Linked DNA regions of Homo sapiens: region 1 is linked to region 2. The links come from fine-mapping of genetic effects on gene expression. A gene starts in region 2. The other region holds a variant in brackets. All regions are shown on one strand. Distances are from middle to middle. Region 1 overlaps BDP1 (BDP1 general transcription factor IIIB subunit). Region 2 holds the start of MCCC2 (methylcrotonyl-CoA carboxylase subunit 2).

Evidence for each region. PIP is the estimated chance that this variant, and not a neighbour inherited with it, causes the effect.
Region 1: its variant is the best candidate, but not a certain one, in a credible set for the expression of MCCC2 in whole blood (TOPMed, PIP 0.72).

What each region holds. Positions count from the first base shown.
Region 1 is chr5:71,488,164-71,493,541 of GRCh38, forward strand. It overlaps BDP1 (BDP1 general transcription factor IIIB subunit), which reads left to right. Exons shown (of 39, transcript NM_018429.3): 10 at 1,241-1,519; 11 at 2,821-2,968. Among named protein-coding and RNA genes, the nearest start is that of BDP1, 35 kb to the left of the region's middle. The variant A/G (reference allele first, on the strand shown) is at 2,223.
Region 2 is chr5:71,584,485-71,589,862 of GRCh38, forward strand. MCCC2 (methylcrotonyl-CoA carboxylase subunit 2) reads left to right here and starts at 2,856. Exons shown (of 17, transcript NM_022132.5): 1 at 2,856-3,070. The coding sequence starts at 2,942. RefSeq lists an enhancer at 2,515-3,301.

The DNA of each region.
Region 1 (5,378 bases), 96 kb before region 2:
TGCCCAGGCTGGAGTGCAGTGGCCTGATCTCGGCTCACTGAATCCTTCACTGCTCGAGTTCAAGCAGTTCTTTCACCTCAGCCTCCTGAGTAGCTGGAATTACAGGCATGTGCCACCATGCCCAGCTAATTTTTGTAATTTTTTTGTAGAGATGGGATTTTATCATATTGGCCAGACTGGTCTTAAACCCCTGACCTCAAATGATCGCCCACCTTGGCCTCCCAAAGTACTGGGATTGCAGGTGTGAGCCACCACGCCCAGCCAGAACTTTTTTTTTTTTTTGAGACGGAGTTTTGCTCTTGTTGCCCAGGCTGGAGTGCCATGGTGCCATCTCAGCTCACTGCAGCCTCCACCTCTCCAGTTGAAGCGATTCTCCTGCCTCAGCTTCCCAAGTAGCTGGGATTACAGGCAAGTACCACCACACCCAGCTAATTTTTGTATTTTTAGTAGAGACGGGGTTTCACCATGTTGGCCAGCCTGGTCTTGAGCTCCTGACCTCAAGTGATCTGCCTGTGTCAGCCTCCCAAAGTGCTAGGATTACAGGCGTGAGCCACCATGCCCAGCCCAGAGTTTTGCTCTTGTTGCCCAGGCTGGAGTGCAATGGTGCGATCTTGGCTCACTGCAACCTCCGCCTCCCGTGTTCAAGTGATTCTCCTGCCTCAGCCTCCCGAGCAGCTGGGATTACAGGCGCCTGCCACCATGTCCAGCTAATTTCTGTATTTTTGGTAGAGATGGGGTTTCACCATGTTGGCCAGGCTGGTCTCGAACTGCTGACCTCAGATGATCCACCCTCCTCAGCCTCCCAAAGTGCTGGGATTACAGGTGTGAGCCACCATGCCCAGCCTGTATTAAATGCATTTTCAATTTACAGTATACTCAACTTATGATGGGTTTATTGGGATGAAACCCAGTGTAAGTCAAGGAGCATCTCTATATGTAACTGTTTTTGTTTAATAAAAATGAGATTTTATGTGTATCTTGTTCTGCTTGGTTTTTTAAATGCAACAATATGCTTTGAAATTTTTCACATGACTACATATAATCTTACCTCATTATTATTATTGGCTCCGTGGATTTTTATATATTATTTAGTCATTTCCCATTAGACATTTTAGGTTGTCTTTAGGTTTTTTGTTCATACAAATAAATAATACAGAGGACATCTTTGAGTCTCTTTCCCACCTTTACAAATTTTTCTTTAGGTTGTTTAAATATTTATAGTAATTTCTCTTGTTTTCAGTGAAAAAAGTTGCCTGTGAAGGAGTGAATAATGATCCAGATGAGTCTATGAGTTCTAGAATTTCAGACACGGAAAGATCTCAGAAGGATGCTCAGACAGTTGAAGAAGAGTCTCTGACCTTATCAAGGGAGGATGCAGAGCAGGTTGCATTAGAAGTAGACCTAAATCAAAAGAAAAGAAGGAGGAAGAAGCAAGATGGAGCTAATGAACTGGGAGTAAACAATCTTTTAGAAAATGCCACTGTTCAGGCGGGTCCTTCTAAAGGAGAAAAACACAAGAGTAAGTTTCTTACATATTTAAAAAGCCTCTATATTACTTGAGAAGACATGTACAGTAATATGGTATGTAACTTAATTTTCTGTCTAGATAGCAATTAATGATGCTTATTAATTGGTTCTGTACTAATGGTACTGTGCTAACGCTGTTTATTTTTAATTAAAAAAGTTTATGTAAAAAAATTAAACAAATTAAAGTGGGGAGATTGTTCTCTAAAGTTTGTTTCTAAGATGTATCACCTCCTGTGCATTCCCATTAACTATGATTAGAAATCACATCTATATAGAGTTAAAAGTATGTTGCTATGTCTGTCAATAAAGCACAGATTTTCATGTTGTACCTCTACAGAGCACCTCTGTGAACCCACAAGGGGTTAGTTCCTATAAAAGAACTAGTGGAATATGTATTCCTTCCCTTTTTCTTTTTTACTCTTTGAATGCAAACATATTGCCACTTATGAGTTGCTTGGGGATGAGGGCTAAGAGTTTGAGGGGGAGTCTTGGTCCCTTTCCTTAAGAGTTCATATGTAGATTATTTAAAGCTGATAACCAAGGAAAAGGTAGGAGCAGACCAGAACAACCTTTCTATAAAATTTATGTTTTCTGTAGTTCAGATTTACCCATCTGATTTTAATAAAAGAGTACTGGTAGCTAACATAGTATGCTTTGTAGGCATCTCAATATTATGCTCTTTTTTGGCTTATTGG[A/G]GTCATTACGTATAATGCAGAACAGCTTAATGATTCACAACCAGGTTTTAGAAATCAAACAGACCTTGCTTTAAATTCCAGCTTTTTTACTTGCTTAAGTATTGCATTGGGAAAGTTACTTAAGATCTCTGAACTCAGGGGGTTCTCTATGAGGTTAATGTTAATATATTTTAATAGGATTGTTTCAAGTATTAAATGAGATAATGCATCTGATGGACTTAAGGGTTCCTGCCGCTTAGTAAGTACTTAATAAATGATAGCTATTACTGTGTTACTAATTAGTATACTTCTGAAGGAGCAAAAGAATAGTTAAGTCAACTTTTAGTTTCCCTACTTGACATATAAAATAAGCCACTTTAAATACTTAGAATTTAAGATAAAAGGAAGATGCTACAAATTGCCCAAGAAGCTTGAGCTGATCCTCATATATGTTAAGTTTTTATTATGGTCTAAAAATAAGATGTGTGCCTTGCAAATAGGGACTTGAATGTTGCTTAAGGTTTTGTAGGAAAAGAGTGTTATAGGTAAATTCCTTTGTGCTCTAAAAAAGATGTTTTTGCTGTCATTTTTTAGAATAACATGCATTTTGTATTTGTAGATAAATGTCAGGCTATAAGGCCTGAGCTAAAGGAAGGTGAATGCAGTAAGGAGCAGATGCTTTCCTGCACACAAAACATAGATGGCATTGTGGGTTTTGCCTCCACTGAAAAAGTTGAGAAAAGAACTGACCCCATCCTTTCATTAAGGTATTTTCTGTGTCTTTTCTGGTTTTATCCACATCTGTTGATTACTGAGAAAGGAGTGTTGAAGTCTCCATCTGTAACTGTGGATTTGCCTGTTTCTTTTTTTCAGTTCTATTTGTTTTTGCTCCATATATTTTGAAGCTCTGTTGTTAGGTGTGTACATATCTAGGATTGTTTTGTCTTGGTGAAATTCCCTTTATCATTATGTACTATCCTTCTGGTATTGCTCTTTTTTTCTGATGTTTACTTTGCTATTGTAGCTTTCTTTTGGTTGGCGTTTGCATGGGTTTATCATTTTCTGTAATGATTTTCTCTATTTTTGGTTTTCGTTAGTTTGAATGTGATGTGTCTTGCTGTGTGTGTGTGTGTTTTTAAATTTTATTTTGTAATATAAAATCATGAGATTTACCCTCAATAGATTTTTTATGTGTACTATACAGTGTTGTTAACTATAAGCACAGTGTTGTATTGCTGATCTCTGGAATTTTTTTTTACCTTGCATAACTGCACCTCTATACCTATTGAACAGCAACTCCTATTTCCTCCGCCTCCCAGCCCTTGGCAATCATGATTCTTTCTTTGTTTTGTTTTGTTTTGTTTTGTTTTTGAGATGGGGTCGGTCTCTGTCACGCAGGCTGGAGTGCAGTGGCACGATCTCAGCTCACTGCAACTTCCACCTCCCAGGCTCAAGCAATCCTCCCATCTCAGCCTCCTGAGAAGCTGGGACCACAGGCATGTACCACCATACCTGGATAATTTCTTGTATTTTTGGTAGAGACAGGGTTTCACCATTTTGCTCAGGCTGGTCTTGAACTGAGCTCAGGTGATCCACCTGCCCTGGCCTCCCAAAGTGCTGGGATTACAGGTGTGAGTCACAGCGCCCAGCCTCATGCAGTATTTTTCTTTCTGTGACTGGCTTATTTCACTTAATGTAATGTCCTCAAGGTTCATCCATGGTGTAGCATATGAGAAGATTTCCTTTTTTATGAGCAAATAATATTCTAGTACATGTATAGACCACATTTTCTTTATGGACATTTAGGTTGTTTTTGTCTGTTGGCATCACTGAACATGGGAGTGCAAATATCTCTTTGAGATCCTGATTTCAGTTCTTGTGGATAAATACCCAGAAGTGGGGTTGCTAGATCATATGGTAGTTCTACTTTTAATTTTTTGAGGACCCTCCATACTGTTTCCAATAGCGGGTACACCATTTTACATAACCACCAACAATGTACAGGGTTCCAGTTTTTTTCACATCTTCTTCAATACTTGTTATCTTTTATTTTATTAATAATGTCCTTCTGAACAGGTAGAAGGTGGTTTCTTATGGTTGTTTTGATTTGCATTTCCCGGATAATTATTGAGTTGAGCATCTTTCATAGCTGTTAGCCATTTGTATATCTTCTTTGGAGACATGTCTATTCAGGTCCTGTGCCCAATTTTTTAATTAGGTTATTTTCTTTTTTGCTATTGAGTTTTGAGAATTATTTATATAGTTTGGATTTTAGGACCTTATCAGAAATATGATTTACACATTTTCTCCCATTCCATAGGTTGCCTTTTCACTCTGCTGTTTCCTTTGGCGTACAGAAGTTTTTTAGTTCAATGTAGTCCCATTTGTCTAATTTTGCTTTTGTTGCCTATACTTTTGGTGTCATATCTAAGAAACTGTTGCCAAAAACAAACTTAAAGCTGTTTACTATTTTTAAGCATACAATTTAGTGGCATTATTTACATTTACATTGTTGTGCAGCCATCAGCACTATTTCTAAAGCTATTTTATCACTGGAAACAGAAAACCTGTACCCATTATGCAGTAATTCCTCATTCTCCCCTCCCTGCAACCACTGATAATCTCTAATCTGCTTTCTGTTTCTCATCCAAGTATTAATCAGGACCAGACTTGCTTAGTTTGAGATCAAATTAGGCTCATTGAGAGCGGTAAGGATGTAGACAACTTTCTGTCTCTATGACTCTGTCTAATCTAGATATTCACATAAGTGGAATCATATGCTATTTCTCATAGTTGTTTGTTCCTAGGTGACAGATAATCTAAAGTGTGAGTTCAGAGATACACCTAATTTCATAAACTACACAAAACTGTACTCGTGACTTTTTCTAATTTTTAAAATAATTAAAAAATGTTGTGACAGGGTCTTACTCTGTTGCTCAGGCTAGAGTGTAGTAGCGTGATCACAGCTCACCACAACCTTGAACTCTTGGGCTCAAATGATTCTATCACCTCAGCATCTCGAGTAGCTGGGACTACAGTCATGGGACACCATGACTGGCTAATTTTAAAAACATTTTTTAGTAGAGATGTTTTCCAGGCTGGTCTCAAACTCCTGGGCTCAAGCAATCCTCGCACCTCAGCATGAGCCACTGTGTCTGGCCCTAGCTTTTTCTAATT
Region 2 (5,378 bases):
CAGTGAGCCGAGATCGTGCCACTGCACTCCAGCCTGGGCGACAGAGCGAGACTCCCTCTCAGAAAAATAAATAAATAAATAAATAAAATAAAAACATTATTTTACTTTATTTTTATTTTATTTTTATTGTTTTTTTTAGAGACAGGGTCTAGCTCTTGTCACTCAGGCTGAAGTGCTTGGCAAGATCATGGCCCACTGCAGCCTCAAACTCCTGGACTCAAGTGATTCTCTCACCTCACCCTCCAAGTAGCTAGGACTACAAGCACATGCCACTGTGCATGGCTATTTTTATTTTTCAGAGACATGGGCTCACTATGTTGCCTAGGCTAGTTTCAAGTTCCTGGCCTCAATAAAACATTATTTTAAAAAATCAGAGATGGCAAAGATTATGTTCCTTGTAATCTCAATAGTGGGGTAGAGAGACACTGGACACTAACAGATGCTAGGTGACTGCTTTTGGCCTTCTGTGCATTTGCACTTCACCTTTTGCATTTTTCTACTTAGCTGTTCTGGGAACATTATACATTTCCAAAGAGCTTCTTGTAACAAAAGTTACAAGAAATAAGAAACATGTATGACTTTTTTTTTTTTTTTTTTTGAGACAGAGTCTTGCTCTGTCACCCAGGCTGGAGTGCAGTGGTGCCATGTCGGCTCACTGCAGACTCTGCCTCTCGGGTTCCAGCGATTCTCCTGCCTCAGCCTCCCAGGTAGCTGGGATTACAGGCACGTGATACTATGCCTGGCTAATTTTTGTATTCTTAGTAGAGATGAGGTTCCACCATGTTGGCCAGGCTGCTCTCAAACTTCTGACCTCAGATAATCCACCTGCCTTGGCCTTCCAAAGTGCTAGGATGATAGGCATGAGCCACTGCACCCGGCCAAAACAGGTATGACTTTTAAAGAAAGCAAGGAATCATATCCTATTGTGTCTTTTCTGTCTTCGGGTGGTGATTTTAAGTACTTTGCATCATTGAAGAACTATTTAGAGAAAAATAAAGTGTGGCAATTAAAATATCAAACCCTCTCTTCTGATACCCTGATACATATGAAAAGTCAGTTTTTACTGGCCTTTTTTTCTGTTGACCATGGGAGGCAAGCACAGTGTAAATCATACCTTTGCAGTTTAGCTCATGCTCTCCTCCATTTGCACAAAGCCTGGCCATGTTCATTGCTCAGTCCACTCTCAACGCTTCTGCAAGGCTCAGCTGCAACCCTTTCCCAATTGCATTCTGTTCCTTTAATGTCTGTCCTACACAGTTCAGTAAGAAATCATGTGGCCATTTGTATTATTTTCTTATAAGTACCTTGAAGTCTGAACCTAAGTTTACCTCCAGGTGTAGACGCACCCTTTCTCTACCCCATCCTCCCCCTTTACTCTGCCCCACTAAGCAACCAATGGAGTAGAAGTAGTAAGTGCTCAATAAATATGTGAATGAAAAACCTTAAGTTCAAGGCATTTTGTATAGAATGTTTTAATTTTTATGGGTATATTTGGAGTCCTTTATTTAAGACCACAGTGCTGATGTCCACAATCTGTCACTACATAGTGCCTGGTGTGGTGGCTCATGTCTGTAATCCCAGCACTTTGGGAGGCTGTGGCGGGCAGATCGCTTGAGTCCAGGAGTTCAAGACCAGCATAGCCAACATGGTGAAACCCCTACAAAAATAAAAAATTAGCCGGGCTTGGTGGCACAAACCTGTAGTCTCAGCTACTGGAAAGGCTGAGGTGGGAGGTCAAGGATTCAGCGAGCTGTGATCGTGCCACTGCATTGCAGCCTGGGCGACAGAGTGAGGCCCTGTCTCAAAAAATGAAATAAAGTAAAAAATAAAAATAACTACATAGCGAAAATAATCAGAAGAATGTTTAAGGTCTCCAGTGAAAGGACAACAGGCTTGTTGTGCTGTTCGCAAGCACGTGTTAGATGCGATTCACTCATGTTGTTGGTGTGTCACTGGGGGTTGTGACTGCAAGTTGTCCAGGTTCTTGGCATTGTGAACAAAGAATTGGACAAAACGCCCAGCAAAGCAAAGAAAGAACAAGGCAACGAAAGAACGAAAGCAGGGATTTACCGAAAACGAAAGTGCACTCCACAATGTGGGAGCGGACCGAGCAGAGCTCAAGGGCCCGGATATAGAATCTTCTTGGGTCCAAATACCCACTAGAAGTTTCCTATTGGCCATTTTATGCTCACCTCAAACCCGATTGGTTGCAAGAAGCAAGCAGTCAGAGGCTAGGGTGAAATTACAAAGTTATACTTCTATGCAAACGAAGACTGGACCCCCAATCAGTCTGATTGGTTGTGGACAGCAACCATTCAGAGGCTGGAGTTAAGGTTCAAACTTGGCAAAGCAAGCCTCCACCAGCAGTAAGTCTGATTTGTCGGGGACAGCCAATTTCCTATCTGCCCTGCGGAAAAGGTGGGGGGGTTTGCAAAGGGAGTAGCCTTTGGTCCTTTTGTTACTTAGGCATGGAAAGTTAGGGTTTTCCTTTCAGTTTAGCTCTAGGAAGTCAGCGTGAGACAGCCTTAGGTTCCCTGCTTCCAGACTTATTCTCCTGCCTTAGGTACAGTCACTATCGTGATATTATCTATCGCTGTGTCAACACAACACCAATCCAAGCCCAACCGCAGCTCTCTCACTGCCGCACCGCTTCGTGAGGGTCGATCCGCCGGGGAGACCTGCTCTCCTGCGCTCGGGACTAGACGCGACCTCGCGGGGCTGAGGCTCTGTCCCTTATTGGCTGGGTCAGGGGGCGTGGCGCGGCTTGACCAATCGCGGGCGGCGCGCTTAGGCACGTGTGTGGACAGGCCTGAGAATCAGAGAAACCTTCTCTGGGGCTGCAAGGACCTGAGCTCAGCTTCCGCCCCAGCCAGGGAAGCGGCAGGGGAAAGCACCGGCTCCAGGCCAGCGTGGGCCGCTCTCTCGCTCGGTGCCCGCCGCCATGTGGGCCGTCCTGAGGTTAGCCCTGCGGCCGTGTGCCCGCGCCTCTCCCGCCGGGCCGCGCGCCTATCACGGGGACTCGGTGGCCTCGCTGGGCACCCAGCCGGACTTGGGCTCTGCCCTCTACCAGGTAGGCTGAGCGCCCCGGTGGCCTGGCCGCCGGTGCCAGGCTAGGAAGCAAGTGGAGGAGGGGCACGCTTCAACAACTGCTGCTCTCTTGTCCGGAGCCCCAGTTGATTCTGTGACGCACGTGAAGTTTGAAGAAGAAAAGCCTAACAGATACAAGAAAGTTTAGTTCACTTTTAGAGCTGGCACTGTACTTTGTGTCTTTGAAATCAGTGGTTCTTAAAGCCTGGTTTAGAATTGCCACCTGGGGAGCTAGCTGAATAGCTGCCTGAGCCCTACTCTGGACCTTGTGGGTCTCAGGTGGAGTCGCTGTGTTTATATTGTTAGTGAACTCATTAGGGGACTTTTGGCAGCCAGCTTTGGGAACCACTGGCCTAGAGCAGCCCAACGAGGGGCGCTGTGCTTAGGAAATTTGAGTTTAAAAGTTGATTATGATGGCCGAGCCCAGTGGCTCACGCCTGTAATCCCAGCGCTTTGGGAGGCCCTGGCGGGTGGATTACCTGAGATCAGGAGTTCGAGAACAGCCTGGCCAACGTGGTGAAACCCCATCTCTACTAAGAATACAAAAATTAGCCGGGCATGGTGGCGCGCGCCTGTAATCCCAGCTACCTGGGAGGCTGAGGCAGGGGAATCGCTTGAACTTGGGAGGCGGAGGTTGCAGTGAGCTGAGATCGTGCCATTGCACTCCAGCCTTGGCAACAAGAGCGAACTCTGTCTCAAAAAAAAAAAAAAAAAAAAGTTGGTTATGTTAATAGAAAATATCCCACAGTATCTTTGAGTGGCTTTTCTTGGAATTAGGAGGCATCATAAGGCCAAAAAACTCAAAACTTGCGAAATATCAGAGCTGGAAAATTTCACTGTGTTCCCACGATTTCTAAGCCTATACAGATAACATCTAAATAGTGCAAACAACACACAATTGTTTGTCAGTCCAGAATGTTTAATTCAGAATTATTAAGTGGTTATTGTGGTCTAGGCACTATTTTAGATATTTGGCATGGATGCGTAGGAATGGAACTAATAATTTTGTAGGGAAGATGGACAAGAAAGCAGGTAACTGTGGTACAGTGTAAGAAGGGTTGTCTAAAGCTTGAGAAGGTGGTTACAGAAAGCTACCGATAGGAAGTAATGGGTGAGATGAATCTTGGGTAAGAGCTGGCCAAGTTCAGGGTGCAGGATGGAAGGTAAGACTGTATAAACCAAGAGAGTTACAAGAACATAGGTACTGAGTTATGAAAGTGTATATCTGGTGTGAGGACTTGAATTCCATGTCTAGGACATGGAATTCATTGAATAGTGTCTGGTGATGGGATTGATTGATTATGGGGCCAGATAGAGGAGGATCTTCCATGCAAAAGCCACATTTAGATTCCATTTGGCAGGTTGTCCATTAAAATATTTAAGTAGATAAGTGGCATGATCCTATGGATATGGTAGAATCATCAGTGTGGTGGCAATGTGGAGGATGGATTGATATAGGGAAAAGACTAGACCTAGGTGACAGTGGAGAGTTGAGTCTTGAGATGAAGGAGTCAAAGTTAGAGTTGTATGTAGGAGGGGGGCATAAATACCTGAGGAGCAAAGATTATAGAGTTAATAACTGAGTGGAAGGGGAAAATGGATGACTTTGGAGTTTCCAACTGGGCAGAATATTTAGTTAGGTGGAACTGCCATTAATACAAAGAAGGCTTTGGTGATGGGTTTTGTATGAATCACCTTTTGCTAGGTTGCGCTTTGTGTAACAAATAATCAAAAAATCTCAGTAACTCACAACAGTAAATATTAGTCTCTCACTTGATTTTGTTTTGTTTCTTAATCTCTCACTCGTGTTGGTGGCCTTTGGTTAGCTGCTGCTGTGACTGTTCCACTGCAGGGTAGGTTCAGGTCTGCTCCATGTGTCTTCCCATTCCTGGACTGAGGCTGAAGAGCAGCCCTGAATTAAACATGCCCTTCTCATGGCCGAAGGCACAGGAGCAAGAGGCTGAACACAAATTGGATTTAAAATCCTTGCTGGCATGTGATGAAATTAATGTGTGCTCACATTAGACAAAGCAAGTCCATGAGGGTGGGGGAGAATGGGATGAATGATCCAGTTTAGCTGTGTTTCCTGATTACAAATAAAAGCAACTATAATAAGTAATAATAATGGCAGGAATTTTATAGTGTACCCACCATTTTTCTAAAGGCTTTATGTGGTTTTACTCATGTATTTATCATAATGATCCTGTGCAGTAGGTACAATTGTTATTTCTGTTTTATAGATGGGAAAACTGTGGTATATAGGGTCCAAGAAATTTGTCTGAGATAACACA